5 separate regions of the Homo sapiens genome follow, and regions 1, 2, 3 and 4 are each linked to region 5. Evidence: fine-mapped expression QTL. A gene starts in region 5. Each other region holds a variant in brackets. All regions are shown on one strand. Distances are from middle to middle. Region 1 overlaps ELP1 (elongator acetyltransferase complex subunit 1). Region 2 overlaps ELP1 (elongator acetyltransferase complex subunit 1). Region 3 overlaps ELP1 (elongator acetyltransferase complex subunit 1). Region 4 overlaps ELP1 (elongator acetyltransferase complex subunit 1). Region 5 holds the start of ELP1 (elongator acetyltransferase complex subunit 1).

The links. PIP is the estimated chance that this variant, and not a neighbour inherited with it, causes the effect.
Region 1: its variant is fine-mapped to the expression of ELP1 in sun-exposed skin (GTEx, PIP 0.96).
Region 2: its variant is fine-mapped to the expression of ELP1 in thyroid (GTEx, PIP above 0.99). The same link has a PIP of 0.9 or more in aorta.
Region 3: its variant is fine-mapped to the expression of ELP1 in whole blood (INTERVAL, PIP 0.98).
Region 4: its variant is fine-mapped to the expression of ELP1 in nasal epithelium (TOPMed, PIP 0.96).

The regions. Positions count from the first base shown.
Region 1 is chr9:108,898,585-108,903,584 of GRCh38, forward strand. It overlaps ELP1 (elongator acetyltransferase complex subunit 1), which reads right to left. Exons shown (of 37, transcript NM_003640.5): 15 at 4,979-5,000; 16 at 4,255-4,358; 17 at 3,044-3,097; 18 at 2,841-2,946; 19 at 1,676-1,791; 20 at 1,238-1,311; 21 at 87-165. Among named protein-coding and RNA genes, the nearest start is that of ELP1, 33 kb to the right of the region's middle. The variant C/T (reference allele first, on the strand shown) is at 2,929.
Region 2 is chr9:108,892,578-108,897,577 of GRCh38, forward strand. It overlaps ELP1 (elongator acetyltransferase complex subunit 1), which reads right to left. Exons shown (of 37, transcript NM_003640.5): 23 at 4,571-4,708; 24 at 4,376-4,461; 25 at 3,919-4,067; 26 at 1,366-1,489; 27 at 409-506. Among named protein-coding and RNA genes, the nearest start is that of ACTL7A, 33 kb to the left of the region's middle. The variant G/A (reference allele first, on the strand shown) is at 2,529.
Region 3 is chr9:108,875,547-108,880,546 of GRCh38, forward strand. It overlaps ELP1 (elongator acetyltransferase complex subunit 1), which reads right to left. Exons shown (of 37, transcript NM_003640.5): 32 at 4,506-4,619; 33 at 3,900-4,011; 34 at 3,077-3,204; 35 at 2,449-2,603. Among named protein-coding and RNA genes, the nearest start is that of ACTL7A, 16 kb to the left of the region's middle. The variant C/T (reference allele first, on the strand shown) is at 2,805.
Region 4 is chr9:108,908,949-108,913,948 of GRCh38, forward strand. ELP1 (elongator acetyltransferase complex subunit 1) reads right to left here. Exons shown (of 37, transcript NM_003640.5): 11 at 3,316-3,546; 12 at 2,062-2,232. Among named protein-coding and RNA genes, the nearest start is that of ELP1, 23 kb to the right of the region's middle. The variant G/C (reference allele first, on the strand shown) is at 1,909.
Region 5 is chr9:108,931,204-108,936,419 of GRCh38, forward strand. It overlaps ELP1 (elongator acetyltransferase complex subunit 1), which reads right to left and starts at 2,921. Exons shown (of 37, transcript NM_003640.5): 1 at 2,661-2,921. ABITRAM (actin binding transcription modulator) reads left to right here and starts at 3,197. Exons shown (of 6, transcript NM_017832.4): 1 at 3,197-3,362; 2 at 4,435-4,486; 3 at 5,105-5,216. The coding sequence starts at 3,284. RefSeq lists an enhancer at 2,164-2,393 and a silencer at 3,144-3,423.

The DNA of each region.
Region 1 (5,000 bases), 33 kb before region 5:
CCAAAAAAAGGACAAAACATCTTCGTTCAGATCATATTAGTTTAAGTACAAAGTAAGCTAGAGTAAATGACAGCTTAGAAAGTTACCTTAGGGTTATGATCATAAATCAGATTGAGATTGATTCTCAGCTTTCTCATGCATTCAAATGCCTCTTTAAACATAAGTCTGTGAGAAGACAGAGAAAGAATAGAAAAGATATTCACAAAAACTGAGCTCCATGGGCCCAGCATATTTTCATTATGATACAAACCAGTTATAATCAGATTACAGCCCCAATGCCAAGCTGCTATCACTGGATTTCTACTCTGAAATTACAGAATAAAAAAATCAGGTACCACATTCATTTACCTTCTTAAAAGGTGTAATTTAGTCATCATGACTGTCTGAGAACTACATCTTCACATACATACAACAGAAAATCATTACAGAAGCCCGGGCACGGTGGTTCACACCTGTAATCCTAGCACTTTGGGAGGCCGAGGTGGGCAGAACACTTGAGGTCAGGAGTTTGAGACCAGCCTGGCCAACATGGTGAAACCCTGTCTCTACTGAAAATACAAAAAAAAAAATTAGCCAGGCGTGGTGCACACCTGTAATCCTAGCTATGCGGGAGGCTGAAGTGGGAGGATTGCTTGAACCCAGAAGGCAGAGGTTGCAGTAAGCCGAGATTGCGCCACTGTACTCCAGCCTGGGTGACAGAGCAAGACTCTGTCTCAAAAAAAAAACAAAGAAAATCATCATGGAATTCAGGTCTACTTTTTAAACAAAACATTAGTATAGATCTTTCCAATACAAAGTTTCCTCCAAATAGGTTCAGAAAATCAGTCATTTCCTTCACAAGAGTAGCTCAGGCTTTTCTGGGTCATAGGCCCCGCTGTAAATCTATTGAAAGCTGTGGGCTTTCTACTTGAATAAATACACAAAGACAAGGTTTGGTGTGTACAATCTCCCTGGGTTCACAGGCCACCTAAAACCCACATGTGTTCCCTCAGGTTAAGAGAAGCCCTCCTTTATATGATGAGTGTCACGATTCTTTCTGCTAGGAATCTCCACTACAAAATACTGCATTAAAGTAAAAAAGTTAAAAAAAAAAAAAAGAGCCTCTAAGAATCTGATTGATGATATAGGTAATGAGGGCTTTTCATAATTTTAAGTTCTCGAAATTGTAATAAAATACTTATTGTCTTCACACATAAATCACAAGCTAACTAGTCGCAAACAGTACAATGGCACTTACTTGTCCAACCACTTCCGAATCTGAGCTAAAACCAGGGCTCGATGATGAACAACTTCTAAGTTTCCCCTTGGCATCTTAAATAAATTAAAGCAGTAACATTTTTAATTAAGTAGAAAACATTTAAATAGCCAGGATACACCATTTTACCTAACTCTTCACAGAGAATTACCACAACTCTCTAAAATCAGCACACTTTTAGCAGAATCTTGTTGTTCTCTATATTTATCTTGACTTTCAAGAAAAGTTTCGCTTTGAGCCTTATGGTCACAGCCTGTATCAACACTCCTTTGAATAAAGCTAACAGAAAACTATCAAGGAAAGGTTTACAATAAACGATACAAAGAATAAGAAAGCCTAAAATACAACCTGCAAGAATTATGCTTGGTACTTGGCTGAATGACAATCAGACTATCTATCTTGTCTGAAAAACCAGCTTACCTGTAATACAAGCTTTGTGTCCTGGGGCACAACAGTGACAATCCGTGAACCCCTCTCCACTTTCCGCAGAACTTCCCCATGGGACACATGATTGCTGCTCAGGCCGGCCTGTAATGCTAAACACACCATTAACTAATAAGCCTTAATTATCACAACAAGCCACTCTCCATTAACTGCAATTGAAACCGCACACATTATGTGAAATAGAAGAGAACAAATAACAACCATGTGCCTTAGCTCTCCCACTGAACCTCAAGACTATCAGCCCTGCTGATGAACACGCTCATCCCTGGAACTTGCCCTCTCTCTTACAGAGCCCTCATGCACATTCACATACACAGCTTCTCAAATGATGTGGAGAAACACAGTTAAGAATTGGGGCAACTTCTCTATTTCTTAGCATTATCAGTGTACTATAATCATATCAATGAAAGAAAGATTCCCTATTTCCAAGTTGGAAGCAAAGAAAATAAGTTGGCTTTTTAGAATAAGGAACACACACACACATACACGCCACACACACATACACGCCACACACACATACACGCCACACACACATACACGCCACACACACATACACGCCACACACACATACACGCCACACACACATACACGCCACACACACATACACGCCACACACACATACACGCCACACACACATACACGCCACACACACATACACGCCACACACACATACACGCCACACACACATACACGCCACACACACAGAGATAGATAGGGCATGGAACAGAAGACAAAATGCAGCCAATATCCTACAAACCACTAGATGGAGCGCAGATGTACAGTGGAGGGTGGGCACAGTGGGAAAAGACTACACAGAAGGTAAAACATTGGGGATCTACATAGTAATTCCAAATAAAATATTAGATCAGTTACATAATAAAATTTCCTGAAAAGTTTTTAACTTTAGAATGTGCTGCTTAAGGAAGGAACTCCCTTCCTTGGATGTCTTTACTAAAGTGCAGAATGATTTAACTGAGATATTATGTTGAGATTAGGGTCTAAGTAAAATAACTCTAAAGATTTTCTCCAGCCTAGGACTCCTTGATAAAAAGCCAAAATAAATGAAGAATTCAAAAAGTCATCAAGACTCCAAAAGACATTGGAGAAGGGACCATTTCTGTTTTATACATTGAAAACTTACTTTTAAATGAAGCATCCCTCAGGCAAAAACACTGGCAGGTATGGGAATGGGTTGTCAACAATAAAAACTCATCATATACTGCAAATGA[C/T]GTGATATTTGACGCAACCTGCAAGAGAAGGCCAGAGAGGCATGGGTGAAAGCTAGCTAGATTACTCGGAGCTAACACTGTGAAAAGGATCCAACACCAAACCAAGCCTTGATACCTCAATGTCATTGATGAAAAAGCGACACCTGTCAGTCAGACCAAGGACACATTCCTGCAAAGAAATAAAACTGAAATCACAAGCAATTCTATCTCAAATCAGTTAAACCTACCTTTTCTATCACATAGTTCTACCACCCTATGATTTCACACCTAAGTTCCTGTAATCAGGACTAAAGATAGATACCTAAGACGTGGCTGGTCCAGTGCAAAATGGAATGTGAAGCCATCCAATCCATCAGTGAGCCCTGACATCTCCATCTCCTACACATATCTCAAACCCATCTCCTTTTTCCCCTCACTAACTCCACTCAACCGGTGTTGATCCCATATTCCAGTCTCGTCACTCTCCAATCAAGTCTCTTCTGGGCAGCCAGAATCACTGTCCAAACCATGAAGCAGAACACATTACTCTGTTATTAAAAATCACAAGAAGTTTCTAATCTTTGTTCAATTAAAGAACCCAAATTCCCTCCTATGACTGTCACTGAGCTCCAGCCACAATACTTCCATCCAGTCCCTTGAATAAGATGAGCTCTTGCTAAGCTCAAGGAGTTTGTTGTTCCTTCTGCCTGGAGACAGAGCCTTCTTTTTCTTCACATCTCAGCACACACATCACTGCCTCCGAGAGGCCTTCCTGGACCACCAGATGCAGGACTCCCATTCTCATAGCCACCATCCTCAAATTACCCCTCAAACATCTCAGTATTCTCTACCAGTATACTCTGTCCATTTCCATCACACTCCCAACAAAGGGAATCATTACATTGAAATTAATAGATCACAAGTTCCAGAAGAGCAGGAATTAGTCAAGCGGTTTTGTTTTCCAGCCACTGCATTCTACCATCCACCACAATTATAGGCATTCTAGTATGTGTTGAATAAAAATCTACTAAAACTATTCTCAAGATCACATTTCTGTTTCCCCTCCTAAATAAAATTAACTTTGAATGATTTGTACAACTAGGGATAAAAGGTTGCTAATCACATATATTATCTCATTTAGTCTTCTGAACCCTGATAGACAGATACTGATTTTCCCATTTTATAGATGAATAAGGTGTGGCTTATGAAAGTGAGATCATTTCCCACTATTGTCTAGGCATTTAGTGGAGACCCAAGTCCACCTCCAAAGCCCACGCTCTTTCTACTTAATGCCATCAGTCCCTGGGTAACTACTTTAAGTAAATTTCCTGCTCCGTGTTCACCTACCTCTTCTCCAATCATGGCCAATTCGGTCTGGGTGCATGGATAAGGAAACCGAACAGGAAATCCACCAGAGTTCTTCCATGGTTTAATAGCCAGAGAAGGTGACTCTGCAAGATTCACAGATCTAGTTCACAAATAGCTGATGCGCTCTTTGCAAAAAACCATCAACATCAACATTTGCTAAAACACTTAACATGCAATTTCAATCACTTTTTTTCTCTAATGCTGGCATTATTTATTTATATATATATTTTTATTATACTTTAAGTTCTAGGGTACATGTGCACAATGTGCAGGTTTGTTACATATGTATACATGTGCCATGTTGGTGTGCTGCACCCATTAACTTGTCATTTACATTAGGTATATCTCCTAATGCTATCCCTCCACCCTCCCCCACCCCACGACAGGCCCAGGTGTGTGATGTTCTCCTTCCTGTGTCCAAGTGTTCTCACTGTTCAGTTCCCACCTATGAGTGAGAACATGCGGTGTTTGGTTTTTTGTCCCTGCGATAGTCATCAATCACTTTTTTAAGAGTACGTTAGTTCATTAAAAGAGGAAACAGGAGTAGAATACACTTGCCAATTCCACTCTAAAGCTTAGGGTTTTCCAGGGTAGTTAAAAGACCTGACAATCAATATTGAACTGACAAGATACAAGTACATGTTCTTAAGAACTAAGCATCTATGTAAGTCATAACATGCTTTCCTAACACCTTGATACTCACCCCAAAGGTACTTAAATATCTG
Region 2 (5,000 bases), 39 kb before region 5:
GCTGTTAAGAGGATCATATAACACATTTAACTTAGAAGCAAAGTGTGTGGTATATAAAAAAAGCTAAAGGGATGCTTTTTCAAGCAAACAAAAATTTCCCTTTATGCTGAAATATATGGGAAAGATCTGTACTTGTTAGGATAATCAGACTTACAGCAGTAAGGTTGGGCTAGAGGAGGGGTGGGAAAGAAGCAGGGAACCCCACGAGGAAGGTGCTGTGGTATTCCAGATGAGGAATCAGAGAACAGGTCAGGACCATTCTCCCAGATAAGAAGTTCAAATTGAGGCTAATTAGTTTTAAGATAAATTTTGAAGCCAAGGATGGTGTTATGAACTTAGGATCCTCACTCCTTTCCTACTAAAGCAAAAAGCAAAACCAGGAGAGCCTCATTTTCACATACCACATACCTGGTACTGTTGTGAGCTTGGTGAATATAACTTCAGAGCTTCGTTATACAAGTTTTTATCTTTTATCAAGTTTAAGCATTCTGGGAAGTACTCAGGTCCTGCAGGAAAAAGATTCACACAAAGACAGGCTTAAGACATGGGAAGCATAATGGACTTCATTTATACCAATGGTCACCAAACAAAATAAATGAGGAACTTTTTAAGACCTAAATAATCAGAGAATCTGAAGAATGGGATCCTGGAATTTGAATTTTTAATGAGCACCACTGCAGATTCTGAGGCAAGAGCAGCACTGATTGGGATCAGCATCCTACTTAAGAGTCCCAGCTTTCCAGCCCAGTGTTTTCTCAGCCTCCTTGAAAAGACATCACCTGGGAAGCTTATTAGACACATGCACGCCTCAGTCCTATCCCAGACCACCTGAATCAGATTCTCCAAGGATGCCAGCAGCTGAAGGCTTAACATGCACCCCAGGTGATTCTTCCTTTCCCCCATCAGTCCTCAGTAAAGAATCACAACTGTTCCAGCATGGGAAGAACAACTGGCACCCCATCACTGTCAATTAAAACTGCGTCTTGCAGGGCACGGGGAGGTGGCCTCATCACTCTCTCCAGACAAGCAGAGTTTCCCTGACATGTCTGCAAACAGCATGAGAAGGAAGAACTGACAACCAATTTTGATTCTGAGACACTGAAGTTAACTTCACAGGTGCTCATTCTTAACCAAAAAAGGATCTACTTGACGTTCTTACCTAGGGAGCTCCTCCAGTTCATTAAAAGTGATTACCTTCAGCTTTTCAGAACACAGGACAAAATAACGTGAGCATACATAATTGTTAGAGTTTTCAGGAGTGGGAAGTGAAATCAGTCACTGTCTAAACTAACAGTTTAATTTATACCTTGCCTAGTTCCAAAGAAGATCTGAAGTAGAGATAAACATACTAATCCCCACACTTACCACATTTGCTGAGGTGGCCAATGGCTTTTTCATATCGTTTCAAGTATTTGTCTATAGTAAACCGCTGATAATTAGTTTCCATTTTCTTAAGTGTATTAAGAAATGGAAGATATTCTTTGGGATCCTAAAAAAATGATTAATGAGAACTTTATTACTTGTGATATTCATATATAGGAATAGAAACTAGCATTTACATATAGCAATAAACCCAAAGCTACATAATTTTTAAATGTGTATTATATATTAACTGCATATTATATAATATATAAAATCAAACTACAGTTGTCCCCCAGTATCTATGGGGAATTGGTTCCAGGACACCCCAAGGATACCAAAATCCAAGCATACCCCAGTCCTACATTTGACCCCATGGAGCCTGGATACACAAAATGTTGGCCCTCTGTATCTGCAAGTTTCAAATCCTGCAAATATTGTACTTTTGATCCACACTGATTGTGGATGCAGAAGCCGTGGACACAAAGGGCCAACTGTGTTTGAGAGAGATCCACATTTAGATAAACCCACACAGTTCAAACTCGCACAGTTGAAACTCACGTTGTGCAAGGGTCAGCTGAACATCAAACAAGCTTTGGCAAAAATGCTTTCACATACGGATATTAATAAGTTACACTTGGAATAATAGTAACTTCCTTAACTAAGTCTCACAGTATCATTTATTTCATAGGCTAATAAGGGAAATAAGGTTTCAGTCTAGAAGATATTCAACAAATGCATCTAAGTTTCTCCTAAAAGTCTAAGACATTGCTCTTGGTGCTGTTTTCATGACATTCCATGCTCTCCTGAAATGATCACATTAAAACAAACATAAAATTATACTGAGTTGGACACAAAACTCTGAGACCCTGCCAACCTAGTATTTATTGGCACTATCATCTCCAGCTCTATGCCATGCCCTGTAAGCAAATTGTTTTTCTTCCTAATGGAGAGGTGTTTCCTGTTTTTAATGCAATTTCCCTGGGCTGACAGGATAAATACATGTAAGAACAACATAGGAAGAAAACCCAAGACAACAAATAATTAAGTGCTCATTCCCAGCACTCTGGGAGGCCGAGGCAGATGGATTGCTTCAGCTCACAAGTTTGAGACCAGCCTGGGCAACATGGCGAAACCCCGTCTCAACAAAAAAAATTCAAAACTTAGCC[G/A]GGCATGGTGGTGCACGCCTGTAAGCTGAGGTGAGATTGCTTGAGCCTAGGAGGCGTAGGTTGCAGTGAGCCAAGATGGTGCCACTGCACTCCAGCCCGGGTGATAGAGCCCGACCTTGTCTCAAAAATAAATAAATAAATACCGCACTCTAGATAAAGACACACTGTAGTCTGCAGGGGTAGGCACTGTGTGCAACAGAAGCATATAGGAGGGTCACCTCACCCAGTCCCTGGAGGGAAGCATGAATGGCTTACTGGGAAGAGGCCACCTTGGCATCCTTTAACCTAGATTAGTGAGAATTAGCCAGGGGAATGGTGAGGGTGGAAGCAGTCAAAGCCCATGGATGGCAGAAGTAATGCTGCCCACCAAGGCATGTGGTGGTGAGGGGCAAGGGAAGGGGGACAAAAGCATTGTCTTTCCTCCATGGGCAGAGGAAAAAAAGACAATACCAAGAAGTGAGAATGGAAAGATACACAGAGGCCAGGTCAAGGAAGGGTTTTTAAGCAGTATTATGGCTTCTGAATTATATCCTCGGAACAATGGGAGCTCATGAAGTATTTTAAGCAGAGAGATGAAGGATCCGATTTTCATTTTTGGAGAGGTCATGGGGAAGAGACTGAGGCTGCAAAAAAATAAATAAAAAATATGCATACCAGTGGTGTTCAAAGTTTTTGATCATAGCAAATGTACCAACATAGGAAAGGAGGCCATGAGCCTTCTGTGCTCCATGTGCCCACCCTCCACTAGAAAAAAGAGCCATGTGAGAAAGAACCGGAGTGGAACATGAACCACTTGTTACATTTCCTTTATAAGAGAAGAAATTAGCTCACACATATGCCCATCATCTTAAAAATAACCATGTAATTTTAGGCCGCACATGGTGGCCCACACCTGTAATTCCAGCACTTTGGGAGACTGAGGTAGGCGGATCACGAGGTCAGGAGATGGAGACCATCCTGGCTAACACAGTGAAACCCTGTCTCTACTAAAAATACAAAAAATTAGCCGGGCGTGGTGATGGGCACCTGTAGTCCCAGCTACTAGAGAGGCTGAGGCAGGAGAATGGCGTGAACACGGGAGGTGGAACTTGCAGTAAGCCGAGATCGCACCACTGCACTCCAGCCTGGGCGACTGAGTGAGACTCCGTCTCAAAAAAAAAGAAACAAAAAAAAGCCATGCAATTTTACTTCACTTCTTCAACCTCACAATCAAAACACTTTCATAAGCACAGGGGCTTAGGAATGTGGGCCCTAGAAACTCACAGATCTGTCTCCAGCCCTGCACTCACAGAGTGATAGCAGAAAAGCTACTGCACTACCAGAAGCAGGGTTTCACACTATCATTATATAAACAAGAACCAAATGGCATAAAAGTAAGAACTCCACATACCTTCTGTGACTTCTCAGCTACCATGAGGACCAAATCAAAGTCATAGGTGCCAAGAGAATGATCATATAATTCATTAACATCTACCAGATGCAGCAAATATTTCAAGGCCTCTTCAGCACTCACAGCATCAGGATCAGAGGGAGCATTTCCTAACAGTGTTTAGAAAACAAAACAGAACACAATCATTTGGGGAAAAAATCCACAGACCTAACAACATAACCAAAAAGACAATAAATTTTTCTCAATAGAACTGGACATCAGAAGAATATATACTTCTGATACTTTTATATATGCTTTAGAGGGCAGCACTGAAAAAAACTGACAAGGGTCTTAAAATGGCAACTAAAAAGTCACATGTTAAATCTGTGGTGTGGCAATGACATGGTGATTGTCACCTGCAGAAGACTAGTAGCAGTCACGGCCACCTTAAGCACTTTCTCTGTGAGCGGATCTCTACCTTGAAGCTCGTGTACTTTTTGCAGTACAATTTCCAGTTCTGGGGTTGTCTTCTTTACATGAGATGTAAGTATGGATAGGCAGTATCTGAGGTAATAAGTGAAGAACACCAGAATGAGAAAGGTAAGTAGGCTGGACAAGGACAACTACACACTTCGGTTTTTCAAAGGATGCCACCTGGTGACAGCATACATACTTATGAGGATTTATGCTCTCCATGACTGCTCTCATAGCATCGCAGACAAGGTCTATTTTATTCCCGTCAGGATCCCTGGACAGGTAGACACTGCTGGTAACTGGTGCAGGGTACATGGTCTTCGTGACATCTTCTTCTCTAAGAACAGGTGTGTATGGAATGGTCATCAACAGAACATGTAGCCCAGCGATCAAATTACTAACATACACCTGGCATGCTGATGATGATAAATAAAAATGACTTTTGGAAAAGAGTTGAATTATAAAAATATTGAGAAATAAAACATGTCCACAAAAGACTTATACAAATGTTTGTAGATGTTTTAGTCACATTAGCCCCAAACAGGGTAGTACAATCCACATGTCCAGCAACAGGGGAATGAATAAGCAAATAGTGGTGTATTTACACAACGGCATACTACTGACCAATA
Region 3 (5,000 bases), 56 kb before region 5:
ACATACCACAACCATACTTCACCAATCAAAACCACAATCATAAAATTGATGTCTTAGAACTTAATGTGGGAGGCATGGTGGCTTACACCTGTAATCTCAGCACTTTGGGAGGCCAAGGCAGGAGGATCACTTGAGGCCAGGAGTTCAAGACCAGCTTGGGCAACACAGCAAGACTCCCTCTCCCCATGTCTAGGAAAAAATTTTAAAATTAGCTGGGCATGGTGGTGTGCACCTGTGGTCCCAATTACTCAGGAGACTGCGGTGGGAGGACTGCTTTAGCCCAGGCATTCGAGGCTGCACCAAGCCATGATTGATCATACTGTCACTGCACTCTAGCCTGGGTGACAGAGCAAGAAAAAAATAAAATAAAATAGACCTTAATGTGAATATGTGATCAGAAGAGAAGATCACTCATGGGAGTGGTATTATAAATTATTATCTTCAAGCCGGGCATGGTGGCTGATGCCTATAGTCCCAGCACTTTGGAGAGGTGAGGTGGGCAGACCACTTGAGCCCAGGAGTTGTTCAAGACCAGCGGGGACAACTTGGTGACACCCTGTCTCTACAGAAAATTTGAAAATTAACCAGGTGTTGTGGCATGCGCCTGTAGTCCCAGCTACTCAAGAGGCTGAGGTGGGAGGATCACCTGAGCCCGGGGCGGTGGATGCTGCAGTGAGCGGTGATCACTGCACTCCAGCCTGAGCAACAGAGTGAGACCCTGTCTCAAAAAACAAAAACAATTATCTTCAAAAGTACTACAGTTTTGAAGATGATGATCACATTTCTTCTAAGAAATACCTATTATAATAAATTCAAGAAGTTCTGGGGCCCTGATTCCTAGTTGCTTTTATTTCAACGGTTTGTAAAGTGCTTTTACACACACCCTCTTATTTAACCTTCAAAGCATTCTATTGAAGCACACAGAGAAGTCTTATGCCCATTTCTAAATGAGGAAATCAAGACATGATAAGCGTATGTGTTTCTAAACACTGAGCTGATTTGTAATCTCTCAGCTCCAACCCACCCTTCTATCCACTGCTTGTGGTGCTGGGGCTGGGCACCTGAAAGATATTCTTCCTTGCTGCTGGCTTCCCATCATGTCCTGCCTACAGTGAACACCAGAGGGGGAGTACAAAGCTGGAGGATGAACAAAAGATTTCTAGATTTCTTCCGTGATTGGCTGGCTTTTTTTTTTTTTTTTTTAAACGGAGATTCGCTCTTGCTGCCCAGGTTGGAGTACAATGGCACGATCTTGGCTCATCACAACCTCTGTCTCCCAGGTTCAAGCGATTCTCTTGCCTCAGCCTCCTGAGTAGCTGGGATTACAGGCATGCGCCACCATGCCCGGGTAATTTTGTATTTTTAGTAGAGACGGGGCTTCTCCATGTTGGCCACATTAGTCACGAACTCCTGACTTCAGGTGATCCGCCTGCCTTGGCCTCCCAAAGTGCTGGGATTACAGGCGTGAGCCACCACCACACCTGGCCCGACCGGCTGGCTTTTCCCCCAGCAGCAGCTGTTCCTTCCAGTTTCCATTTACTTCTGTACGCTTGGAACCAGCTCCCTCAGAAATGCCAGGATTAGCTGGCTGGCACCCTCCTCTCAGAGGTTCAAGAGCCAGCTCTACAGGGCCCCACTTCCAGGCTTCTAAATTCTAATAATTCCCAACAACTCCTCCTGTTCCCTCAGCTAGAGGGTAAAGCTGCTTCCTACAGTTACTATCTCAATGTCCTTCCTCTGTATTTCCCTTTTGCCTTGTTTAGTCCTCTAATACTTATTTAACAAATCCATATATTAAATTCTGTGATAAAATAATAGATAGGCTTTTGTTTTCCTTTCTAGATCTTGACTGATACACCAGCCTTTTTGAATCCAAATAAAAACTCTTAACAATAGACTTGAAGTATAAGAGAGTGAACAGAGGTATAAATAATAAACAGATGACAATATACTAGAATTCTGCGATACAAAGCTGATTCAGCCTTAAACACAACCCGCAAAGTCCATCATAACAACATAGAAGTGACAAGTCAAATTTTTCATAAAACAAAAGGAAAAGCAATTGCCTGGGGTCCCTTTAAAGCCTGATCCCATCCCTGAGTTCTGAAAGGAAAGTGAGAGGCCGTCTCTGACCCCATCTTCCCCCATCTCTCCCCACTCCAACCTCATTGAAGGCCAGGAGCAATCATGTGACTTTCCCATTTTCTCCATGACAGCTACTTCATCCAGAAAGGAAAATGACAGTCCATTTAACCTATGCCAAGGTATACTAGTCACTCTACAGGCAAATATCAAATCTTACTGACAGCTTACACATAAATCTAAGATAATTTAACTATGGCATCTTATGTTTTAAGAACAGGAAAACTTTTTGACTTGGAGATTGTGTGAATACAATAACCCATGAAAATGATGAAAAAAATGCACACCGTCTCTGAGAAAACTTACCGGGGTAGCTGAATTCTGCTGGTAAGTAAGAGTCCAAATTTCTGGAAGTGACCTTTCCATCAACTGCAGCGTATCTTCAAAGGCCTTCTGTAATTCCCTTCCTTGTTCATCAAACTCAAAGAGAAAGAGTACCTTTAAAATATGGTATACTTCATCTAGAGAGAAGAAATTTGAAAGAGTGGTAAGTTATATTCCCAGCTCCATTGACAGAATCATACATAGCTTCTATCCAAAGCCAAAAATTTCTATGATCCCACTGCAGGTCCTTTCTCCCACATTATCTTTTTTCTTCCCAAATGCTGGAATAATTAAACACATGTACTACAAAAAGAAAATCAAGCACGCTGGGGGGCCTA[C/T]GCAGAAAGCAGTGTCCCACAATTCTTTATCCTGGCCTAAGCATCTCTCCCAGTTCAGTTAGGGGGATGCCAAATGGAGGAAGGCTTCTCAGTTACCAGCTAAGAAGGGCTGCTTCAGGAATGTGTGCAGACATGACCCTTCCTGCTAAAAGTTCTCATCTTTCCTCAAATTGGGAAAATGGTAGCTTAATCACCTACTGAACTCTGCCTGTCTGTACTGCCTATTCACTATTGTTTGTGGTCAGGAATCATCATCAGGACTGAGAATATACCTTTCAGGTTTTCAGTGTTCTGCACCACTTCACTCAGTGCCTCCAGGAGGGCCAGGTCCTCCAGCGGACTGCCTTCTTTGAGGCTGTGCTTCTTCCGCTCCGCTTTTCGGCGATTCTTGGATGATCTCCTGTTAGAAATTACACAGATATTTTTAAGCCTCCTGAGTAGCTAGGACTACAGGCATGTGCTACCTTGCCTGGCTACTTTCTTGCAGTTGCTGATGACCCCACACAACTTCACAGATCTCCATTTTAAATTCCTAAAGCAAAATTCAGTTTGAATATATAATCTTGCATTGCTTTACACATCCCAAGCAAGACTATAAACTCTTATAACTCATATCTCCTTATAAGTTTTTGGTAACATCTACTGCACCTACCATATGAGTGCTGAATAAATATTTCTGACAAATTACTATATTTGGTAAAAGTGTTATGACTTATTTTACATTTATGGTCTCTTCCAATCCTGATTTTGAATTGAAGAAGCTTATCTTTTCATTTTTTCAGTGCCTATAATTTAGTCACAACATTTGTTCAAAAAATAAAATCAGATGTTAATATAAACTGAGCATTCAGGGGAGGAACTGCCTCGTGGGGAATGGGAAAACACACAAGCCACAAGGCTGAGGAAGAAAACCTTCCAATGCCAAGTTTAATGTCTCAGATATGCTGGGAAAGTGTCTGAACAACTTCCACACAGCGCTGAAGAATATTCTCCCCACTCCCACTACACCGTCCCAGTAGAAAACCAATCTATTTGCTTCCACTTTCCCTATATGCCCAGGATATAGTCAATGTGCTGAATCAATGTGATACGTACGCTGATATCCTGGAGTTACTATGGGAGTATTTGCCACTCATCTCACTGCCACTCACGACACTGCTAGTTTCAGAGAAGAGGTCTGACTCTTGCCCGTGGGGTACCTCATCATCTAGAAAAGAAGAACCAGAAGCCGATGAAAACACTGCCTGCTAATGTGTGGGTTTACTTTCAGGGCGGTAAATGAACTAACTAGAGTCAACTGGTGCATATCAAAGGATGGATGAAAATGATTGCAAAGTTGATCTCAAAATGAATGAGATAATATTAAATACAGTAATTACTAATGTAAATCAGTAGTTTCCTGAACTTTTTTCTGGAAATGAGGAAACTCATTTTGTTAGACACGGAAGTGGTCAGCTGCTCTGGGTGAATGGGGGTAGGTGGGAATGTCTGGCAGAGCTCTCCCCATTCATGCTTGGTCCTGCCCTTCACCAACACACAAACACAGACACAGAGGGCCCTGAAGGGGCTCCACAGAAGCCTCACACTTGCCCATGGCACAGTAATCAGATTGCAGGCGGATCACCAAGCAATCTAGACAATGTGTGGCGTTACCCAACCCCACTGCCCCCGCACGTCGATGGCCTTCACGCAGATACTCACCCAGACCTGCCTGCTGGGCTTGCTCCTTGAGCTCTCGAACTACCAATAAACGTTTCTTGTGGCGACTGAATGTGGCTGTCTGAGAGTCCAGAAATGCCATATAATTTTTCTGGGCTGGAGATGCAGAATGGAAAATAGTTTGAGCATGAGGTTTAAGCAAAGAGAAAAAACTAAAGGCGGGGAGCAGTGAAGGAGGGTTAAAATTCAGCAAAAAGAAAGAGGTTACTAGGTTTTCCAAGCGAGCTCTTTTTCCTTAATAAGCATTAACAAATTAGAGACTGAGATTCCAGATCTTAGAGTTCATCAACATTATCCCAGAATATGCGCTACCACTGAACTTGTAAAATCACCTGAACGAAGACTTGATACCTAAAGCAAGGGAGGATTGGCAAAACAAACAAACAAACAAAACAAACAAACAAAAAAAGGGGGGGTAGGGGAGGGGAGCTCAGTTAACAAAAATAAGAAGAAAATTACCTAAATGTTTCTGGCTAA
Region 4 (5,000 bases), 22 kb before region 5:
CTGGCTATTTCCTAAACACAACAGGCACTTCGGTGGTTGCTTTTTACTCTGCTTGGAACGCTCTTTCTTTTTTCTTCTTTGCCTTCAAGCATAGAATGCTTGGGACGCTCTTACCCCAGATGTCTGCGTGGCTCCCACTGTGATTCTCACCAGGTCTCTGCTTCAATGTCACCTTCACAGAGAGGCCTTTGGGATCACACTAAATAGGAAAGACACCTTCCCCCTGTAAACCCTTATCCTTAAGCTCTCCCTACCCCTTATTTTGCTTAATTTTTCTCCACAGCACTTGCCATCTGATAGATCATATTTAATTGATATCTTTTGTCTACACCTAGAACAACAAGTTGTAGACAAAGTACAACTAGTTTTCTAGTACAACAAGCCAAGTACTAGAAAAAAGCCTGGCATATAATAAACAATCAAGAAGCAATGAGGGGGAAAAAGGAGTGATACTCAGGATGCATCAAACACCATCTTTGAAAACTTTGGCAACGAACTTGTCTCCACACCACTCAAATGTCTACCACTTGACTCCAAGTTCTTAATTTCCCTTCCACTTGGGCACGGAGCCCTGACCTGTTCCAGTCCAAGATCTCTTTTTCCAGATTCTCTTATATCCAAACTCTCCCCAGTGGGTTCTTTAACTTCTCAGGGTTTTTACTTCATGGATTTGTTATGATCTTTCTCTTCTTTCCATTTCTATGAACACTGCTCTGGCTCAAGCTCTTGCTAGCTCCTGCCTGGACACTTGACAACAGCTTCTCCTAACTAGAATCTCTGCCTCCAGGTGCCCCTGACCTATGGCCAACCCCACATATTGATGCCGAACAATCTTTCAAAAGTGGAGCTCTCAACCTGTCCTATCTCATCACAGGGAGTTTTCTCTCAAGTAAAATGAATGCAGGGTGGTACAGGGTTTCATTCTGAGGAGATAAAAACGTCCTAAAATTGATCGTGGTGATGGCTGTACAACTCTGTGAATATACATATATATACATATACATATGTATATATATTCATACACACACATATAAACCATTGAATTGTACACTTTAAATAGATGAATGATATAAAGCTATTTTTTAAGTGAATGCAGAACAAAACATACCATACATCATAAAGTGACATATAAACTCATTAGCATCATACAGTTAAGTCCCACAAAAGCTTACATCTGATTCTTTTTGCCTTGACAATGAACATATTTGCACTTTTTTTTAAAGCTATTTTGAAAAGTTTAAGGAGGACTGTAACAGCATTTTACACACTGAAACTATAATCAGAGAAACTGGTGATACATCCAGATAGGATCCATGTACACAGTGGGCTGCTGACTTAACAGAAAAGCTGATATGAAAGTAAGGACTTCCCATTTAAATTAATTAATTTTGATTATTCTCTCTTGGCAACTATCTAGGCTTTTTCTGAGAATTCAAAAGATATTTGAAAACAAGGCTAACACTGCCATATGCCAGCAGAATTTATGACATAACCACAGAACTCACAAGTAAAAACAAATTTCAGATTCTCCAGCACATCAGGAAAGTAATGAAGAACTGACAGCAATGGGGCTGTGGCAGGACAAGTGGATTAGGAGCTAGAACACCTGTGTTGAGGTCCTTGTCCATTCTTGTTCAAACAAATTACAAAACCTCTGACACTGTGTTCCCTCATCTACAAAAGAGGAAAACCCCATCTCTGACACAGCTCCTAGGAGGGATGAGATCAACTGAAAATATGTGTAAAGGCTATGAAAAGAGTAAAACATGTTAACAATGTATAACATACTATGTTATTTCCAGAGTCCAATGTTATTCTTAAATAACTGACTCTTCAAGTCAGTAAGGGAAAAGGAATGGCTCGTACAAACCAGTATAGGATTAAAAAAAAAAAAAACAAAAACCCAAG[G/C]CAATTAAATATCATAATGATAATGATATCAACTGCAGACTTAAAAATTTTGAGAAACACTAGACCTATGGCAACACCAAACTATAATTTGCTTTTATGTAGGAGTAGAAGGGACTTGATTCAGAACATCTTGGCAAAAGTTTTATAACATACCACATTTATAAACAGAAATCTGGTTACTGGCATCTAGAACAGCAAGGTCATTACTCTTTTGAGGGTGTGCTAAGAATGTGACTTGATTCACAGGGTGTGGGAACAGCAGTTGGTAGGTGCACATGGGAGGCGGAACCACAGTCTGCCGGAAGACTGTCACCAACACCCTGTCTGCAGTGAAAAAGAAAGAAGAGGATTAGACCTAGGGATATTCAATTTGTAAGATAAGCCATCTGAACATCACAGTATATCTAAACAATAATGGCAATTCACAAAAAAATAACTTTCAATGTTTTTCTCAGGAACAAGTCTAAAAACAGTGTGGGATGGGGAAATGTCATGGGTTCTGTCCATAATTGGCTATTGTCACCTCTAGGCCTAGGGGAGTCCATCTCAGTACCTGGAGTTTCAGGTGCCAGGGACTAAGGCAAAAAGGCCAAGAGGTCAGACCTCTAGCTTTAAACCTGGGCCTGCAACCAAGCCACACTAAACCAAGGGAATTAATACTTTCAAAATCCTTAAAGCACTTTCCTATGTGTGGATTTGGTAATAACGCAGATCTGATTAAGTTCTCTATATAGAATACATGACTATAAAATCAGTATTATGTAGAATATTACACAGAATATGAATTAATATACCACCTCACATTACAATCTTAGAAGCCAGTGCTCCCTTTCATATCAGCAATGAAACTATTCATTAAGGTGACTACTTCACTCTTCAGTCTTGCCCTTCCCACCCCACCCCCTAAAAAAACCTTCTACCTCATTATAAAATATAAACCTAATCTTCATATTAGGCAAACGTTTATGCATGAACTGAACATACTGGAGAGGTATATATCAGCAAGCATTTGTATCAGGAAACAAAGCAACACAAGTGGGGTGGTATAAGGGTCAATTATAAATCTGTGTCAGGGCAAACAGATAAAGCTAACACACCCAATCCCACAAGACTGTACTGTTGTCATCCTCTCTACCTAGAGTCAAAGTTTTCAGTGTCTTCAAAGGCCAGGCAAGTAAACGTGTGAAGGCCACAGATGCAGTATAACAGGAAACTGGTGGGGGAGGGGGGACAATGGTTCTCAGGAGAGAACATACCCCACCTTATATCCCATTCAATAAAAAAACAAGTAACCCAAACAGCCAAAACAAATAAAGATTCCCCACTGTTCCAGTCAAACCACCACATCTGCAGGCCCTAGGCTCAGGACCCCTTGCAGGCTCATGGACACACTTCCCAGGAGCTTACTTCCATCAATGACAGCCACATTGGACAAGTCACTTGAATTATCTCCCACGCTCCGGTCAGTCGTCCAGTGCCAATCATAGGCGAGGTAATGCCAGCCCTGACAGAGAACATGCAGCCGGTATGGGGTCACAGGGTCCCACATCAGAGACACAATCTTGCTCTTCCCACAGGTGCTGAAGGATAAACTTTGCTTGAGATACCAGTGATAGTTTCCAACAGTCCAGAGCTGAACTGCAAGGGAAAATGAAAAGAAGGCCGTTAGAGGCTGGGAAGCAGACTTCATCCCACTTGCCAGAGGGGTTCAAGGGCAATCTTTTCTTTTTCAAAGGACCCTTCCTGCTCAGCCTCGTCTCTAAAATAAGAACAATAATAACTGCCAAAAAATAGCTTTCCATGCAGATAAAATATCAAGAATCAATAAGGTCAGAAATATATGTTTATTTTCTTGTTTTTTTTCTATTTTTAACTTTTATTCATATGTTTATTTTCGTTTTTTTTTTTTTTTTATTGACACAGAGTCTCGCTCTGCCGGCCAGGCTGGAGTGCAGTGGCGCAATCTCGGCTCACTGCAAGCTCCATCTCCCGGGTTCATGCCATTCTCCTGCCTCAGCCTCTCGAGTAGCTAGGACTACAGGCGCCCACCACCACACCCGGCTAATTTTTTTTTTTTGTATTTTTAGTAGAAACATGGTTTCACCGTGTTAGCCAGGATGGTCTTGATCTCCTGACCTTGTGATCCGCCTGCCTCGGCCTCCCAAAGTGCTGAGATTACAGGCCTGAGCCACCGTGCCTGGCCCACATGTTTATTTTCAACTTTACTTCCAAACTTTATGATCACAATGGAAGGCTACCAGGAAAAAGCATTCTTTTAGTGGGTTTTCTCATGAAGATTTAGGAAGAAGATAACTTGGCAATTAGAGTAAAAGTATTAAAACACTTAATCCAAGATCTAGACTAGCATCATTGTGTTGTATTGGGCTTAAGATGCTTATTTTCTTTCAGGTGCTTTGCAAGCACTTATGTTCAAGGCTATCTGGGTATTAATCCTGATTCAGCTGTCCAAAGAAGATAAGCATGAAATTATCCTTCCAACATCTATTAAGCAAGCAAGACTTAATCATGCCAAAACCAACCTTTACTAAACAGATGACATATAAATTAAGACCTTAGTTATATTAGGAATTATAGTTATATTAAGAAATATTATTTATATTAAGGATTTTCTCAATCTCCTTGCTCACTAATGCTTAACTTAGTGATCACAGCAAACATAACCTAGTCTCAAACCGCATTATTACAACACTTTGAAGTTAGACCACATGCTGATGTTCTGTGAGCACAGATGTTGTGGCTGTTCTTGTGCAATGTGTGTGTGTGTGTATATATATATATACATGTTTTTGAGATGGAGTCTCACTCTGTCACCCATGCTGGAGTGCAGTGGCTCAATCTCGGCTCACGGCAACCTCTGCCTCCCAGTTCAAGCGATTCCCTTGTCTCAGCCTCCCGAGTAGCTAGGACTACAGGCGCGCACCACCACGCCGGACTAATTTTTGCATTTTTAGTAGAGACAGGGTTTCATCCTGTGCAATATTTTTATGCTCAGCATATCACAGTGCCATCCCTTGACACACTGGTTAATCGGTGGTTCTCAACTGCGGCTGTTTAAAATCACTTGGGGGCTT
Region 5 (5,216 bases):
AAGAGAAAAATAAATAGCTTAATAGTGATAAATGACCATATTTATTTAAATGAAATGATTCAGGGGGTGAAGAAGTGGTAGTCAGAATCAGAATAACCAAGAAAAGAAAAAACTTACCTCTCTGAGTACACACCCATGTATGGATTATAGCAGCAACCTGACCCACTCTATACAGTTATGGTCTACAAATTAGGAATTCTGAAACCTATTTTATGTTCTTTTTAGGAGAGGCAAGATTCTCAACTTTAGAATGTTTTCTTCAAAAAAGATGTAATATCAGTTATTCCTTTGGGAAAGTTGAAAGAACAAATGAATGGGGAAACATTTTATTTTTGCATATTAGGACATCTTTATAAAATCATGAGGAAAAACAAAAGGGTATCCCACTGATTAGCACTATTTGAAAATCCATTTTTATATACTGGCAGTTGAAGAGAATCTGAAATGACTTTAATATTCACCAGGTCTATTCATTTATAAACTGGTTTTATACATTCATAAAAAAACTGAAATCAAAGATAGAAAAGCATTTACTGTTCTAAAGGGGAAGAGAAAATACTGGGACATGACAACAATTTACTTCAAAATGATGACCAACATTTCAAGGACCCTGATGACCTGACATAACTACTTCCAGTAACTTTGTTCTTCTGGCCAGGCTTTTCCCAGGACAATATAAAACGTGAGAAAAGAGTGCTAAACAAGACATCTACTTTGGTCTGGCAAAATCAGGCTTGCTTAAATGCATAACATTACCTAAGTAGGGGAAAAAAATGTTACTGTGCTAGTTATTTATATTCAGATCCCTTTAAGGCTTATGATTGTAAGTCCCTAACTTATGTTAGGGGTAGCAATTACAAGGACCACACCGGTCTTATTGTCACTTTAATCCAAGGAGACTTCTCTCATCTTGGCACCCCACATATGTATGACATAGAAAGAATAAAGATGAATCAATCCTAATAGTACACAGAAGATAATGTCAAGTGTCATAGGAATTATATAATATATAATGTGGGATAAGAGAAAGGTAAGTTTATATATGATGGAAGTGAGGAAGACAATGATTTTAGTAAGTTTTGGTGACAATTATATTCAAGAACTGCTAGAAATTACTTGAACCTCTAACATATCATGCAGGTTTTTTTGTTTTTTGAGACGGAGTTTCGCTCTTATTGCCCAGGCTGGGGTGCAATGGCGCGATCTCGGCTCACCGCAACATCTGCCTCCCGGGTTCAAGCGATTCTCCTGCCTCAGCCTCCGGAGTAGCTGGGATTACAGGCGCCCGGCACCATGCCCAGTTAATTTTTGTATTTTTAGTAGAGACAGGGTTTCACCATGTTGGCCAGGCTGTTCTTGAACTCCTAACCTCAAGTGATCCACCCGCCTCTGCCTCCCAAAGTGCTGGGATTACAGGCCTGAGCCACCGTGCCTGGCTGCGTTTTTCATCTTTAAACATCATAAAAACGCCTCAAAACTAGTTTCTCTGAAATTTCACACCCATCAGCCTTATTCCCTTATCTTCTCGGAGGAAGACTTCCCTCCACTTCTTTCCAGGCTAGGAAAGGAATATCCTCCATATTGCCACAGGACCTAGGCCTATTAGTACTCTTTCTTGGACATCTGCAACCTCCAACCTTCCTGCCTCCACTGATTCAAACTCTTCGCAGTTCTTAAATGTGCTAAAGATCCCTCCACACCAAAGGTCAATCGTGGATTCTCTCTTAATTTCCTGATAACTGCTTCATTTTCTTCCCTTGCTCCTTCGACTATCCACCTCTTGGCTAGACATCACATGCATGATTACATATACCAGGTAGATCACCAATACGCTGATTAGGCCTAAATGCCTAGCCCTGACTGAATTAGCCCAAACTTACCACTAAACCCACATTTTCAACCTCCTGATAGAATCACAAGCATGTCTCACATGCACATCAAATGCGACCTGGAAAGCAAAGAACTTGCTATTCTTCCCCCAAATGACAGTTCCCACTATTTGGGGACAGACCATTTCTACTCTATGTCCCCAAGCTGAAAAACTGTCTTTGCTGCCTTTTTGCTTACTCTTCATACGGATCTATTCATTGATTAGTTCCGTGGCTGTCAATATACAGTTGAATTCTTTACGATCCGGTTTGTGGCCTACATCCAACACCGACTGAGCACTTGCTAAGTACTGGGATCTGAAGATTACTCAGCCACTGTCTCCACGGAGATCATCGTTAACGGGAGAGAAAGCCACGTAAAACACCACGTTAGATGGAGAAGCACAGAGGACACCACCTCCACGAAAAAGTCTCACACGCGAGAAAGGACCCGCACCACAGCACCCGAGCCTCTATTAACCGCCGCCTTCCATCGTGAATTAATACTCTCGCTTTCAGCGTTATTATCAACCCCCTGCAAGCAATCAAGAGGCTGGGTTAAGTCCGGCTGGAGGGGCAGCAGGCATCCCTGGGCTGTCGCGCCTCCCAGCGCCCCCGATGGAGCAGGTGGCAAGGCTGCAAAAAGAATTTAAGGCTCTAGGAAAGAGGTGGTGCAGCCCGCACTCCAGTCCCCGGCCCGCAGCAGGCAGAGGAGGCTCCGGGTCTCCTTCACCCGGACACCGCCGGCGGAGAGGTCCACTCCCGTGCCCCTACCCTGGATGGATCGCTTACCTGAGGACCCCCAAACAGAGGTGCGTCCGGCCTCGCCTCCCCAGCCACGCGCAGCCGGCTACCCAGAGTCAGCTCCCACAGTCCGCACCCAGAGTCGGCTCCGAATTGCGCACGCGTCTCTGTCCGCGGCTCCCGCTCTCTCTCCGACGGCACTAGGCCTCCAAGGATGGAGGCGCCCTCCAGGGGAAAACGCTGAAGCGCTGCAAAGAAGCCAGCGACTCAATGGGTGCGTCAACTAGGCAGCCGCAGCACTGGGAGTGCGGCGCGGGAGTGACGTCACCAGGCGGAGGGGGCGAGGCCGGGCCCGCTTCTGGTCACTTACGGCGGCCGGCCTTCTTTGTAGGCCTGGCACCGTAGAGGTAGAGGAGCTACATTGGCCGCGTCCCCTGTCCCTCTGCCCTCTTGCCCATCTGCCCAAACTTTTGTATTTGATCTCTGTTTTGATGTCGAACCCCAAAGCACTGTAATTGGGGGGGGCGGGGGGGGGGGTGGAACCTGCGGACCTGAGAGCAGCGCGCGTGCGCACGACACGCGCTGTGCGCCGGAAGAGCACGCCCAGTCCGGGCTGCGCGGAGGAAGCGCTGGGGTCCCGGAGGGCGGGGGTGGCGGCGCCGGAGGTCGCCATGGCTACCGAGCCCGAAGCCGCGGAGCCGGTGGTGCCTTCGCTCGTGGATCGATACTTCACTCGCTGGTACAAACCGGGTAAGTGCGGAGTGATGTTGATCCCTCCTTGGCCGCACTGGCCTAATGCTGTGTAGACTATGTTGACAGATCATAAGCCACGCGCGCTCTCCCTGGCTCTCCGTCCCCACGTCAGAAGGCACTGGACTTCTGTGTTCCGTCTAGCCCCAGGGAATGGCATTTGCAAAGACCTGGTGGCCTGAAATACTTCAGGGCGCATTCTGGGGCCGGCGATTGCAGTGCGAGCTCTAGGGTGTTGCTCGCAGTAAGATGAGTACTCTAAACGGAGGCCCCAAAGGTAGGCGGAGGGCTAGGTTGCAACAGTCCTTAAGTGCCTGGAGGGATTGAGGGGCTCACTCTCACAGGGAGTAGCGATACATAAAATTATTTAAATGATCAGATCGAAACTAAGGTAGAGGCAGTAGGGATGGCGAGAAGAGGGTGGGTTAGATTAGAGACATTTAGAAAGAAGAAGAATCTATACATTTACCTTAAGAGACGCCATCTGCCACTTAGAAGTAGGTATTCTTTTTGTACTGTTTTGTGTAAGCAGAACCAGTGGTGGGAGCATCGTTGGGGACTCTCCTTTCTTCCTTTCATTCAGTGATAATGGTTATACTCAGTTTAAAAAATATATATTGTAGCATATTTTCTGTTGGCCAAACATAGGGTGACCAACCTGTCCTAGTTCACCCATGACTGAGGGGTTTCCCAGAATGTCGGACTTGCACCAACATCAGGACAGTCCTGGAAACCACCAACAAAAAATATATATCATAAAGAACGGGATGCTAATTGCATTTTCCTAGCAAAAATACTACGTGTACTCATTTTGAAGTGAGTGTAAAGTAAGATGGAGCAAGGAGTTAATTACCTTAATGTTGAATAAATTATTCTATCTGGGCCAGATCTCTTTAAATACTTTCTAGGAAACCTTTAGGTATGTCTTTTTGAGTAATGAAGGGATACCCGTGATCAGCATGCAGCATGTATGTGTCCAGTCTTCATTATCAACTATATGACCCAAAGAAAGTACCACATAGTGGTAGTAAATATTGATTTCAGCCACCAACAGACTCATGTATTCTTCTAGATGTCAAAGGAAAATTTTGTGAGGACCACTGTATACTACAGCACTCTAACCGGTAAGCAAATTGGGAATTTTAAATTATCAAAAATTTTTTTTTCCTGGTATTGTAGCCTGGTATGGTCTTGTGGTCTTGGATTGAACAAATGTTCACTAAACAAACATGCATTAATTATCTTCTACTGTGTTGAAATGGTATTATTATAGGAGTTTGTTTGGCAAGAATGAGTATTCCAGTGCCTGGCCACTCTGAACATATAAATTTGATTACTCAAACATCCAAATGGAGGACCACATCATCAGCTGCTACTTGAAGTGGCCAGTCTGTGCCCAACTACTGAACTGTTCAGAGCCCACAGAAAGGGCTACGGTAGAGACATGTATGGTATCTCGTATACACAGGCATGCCTTATTTCTTTGTCTTCTACCCCAGTGCTACCTACCTAAAGACCTCTGGTACTCTTCCCTTTCCTGGGAAAGAAATTCAATCTTGTTTTCTCTTTTATTATTGTATTCTCTATTCTACAGTTATGCCCCAATAGTAGCCAAAGGAAAAAGGGGGAAGATGATAGTTTGACTAAACAAATACCAGTTCATACATTCTTGTTCCAATAGGAGTTATGGGAGGAAAAATTATTCCAAGCAATCACACAGGATCAACTTTTTCTCCTTGTAGAATATGTGTCATCACATTGGCAGAATCTCATCCAGTTCTTCAAAGTGGAAAAACAATTAAAAGCATTTCCTATCAGATCAGTACCAACTGTAGCAGACTTCAGAACAAGGTC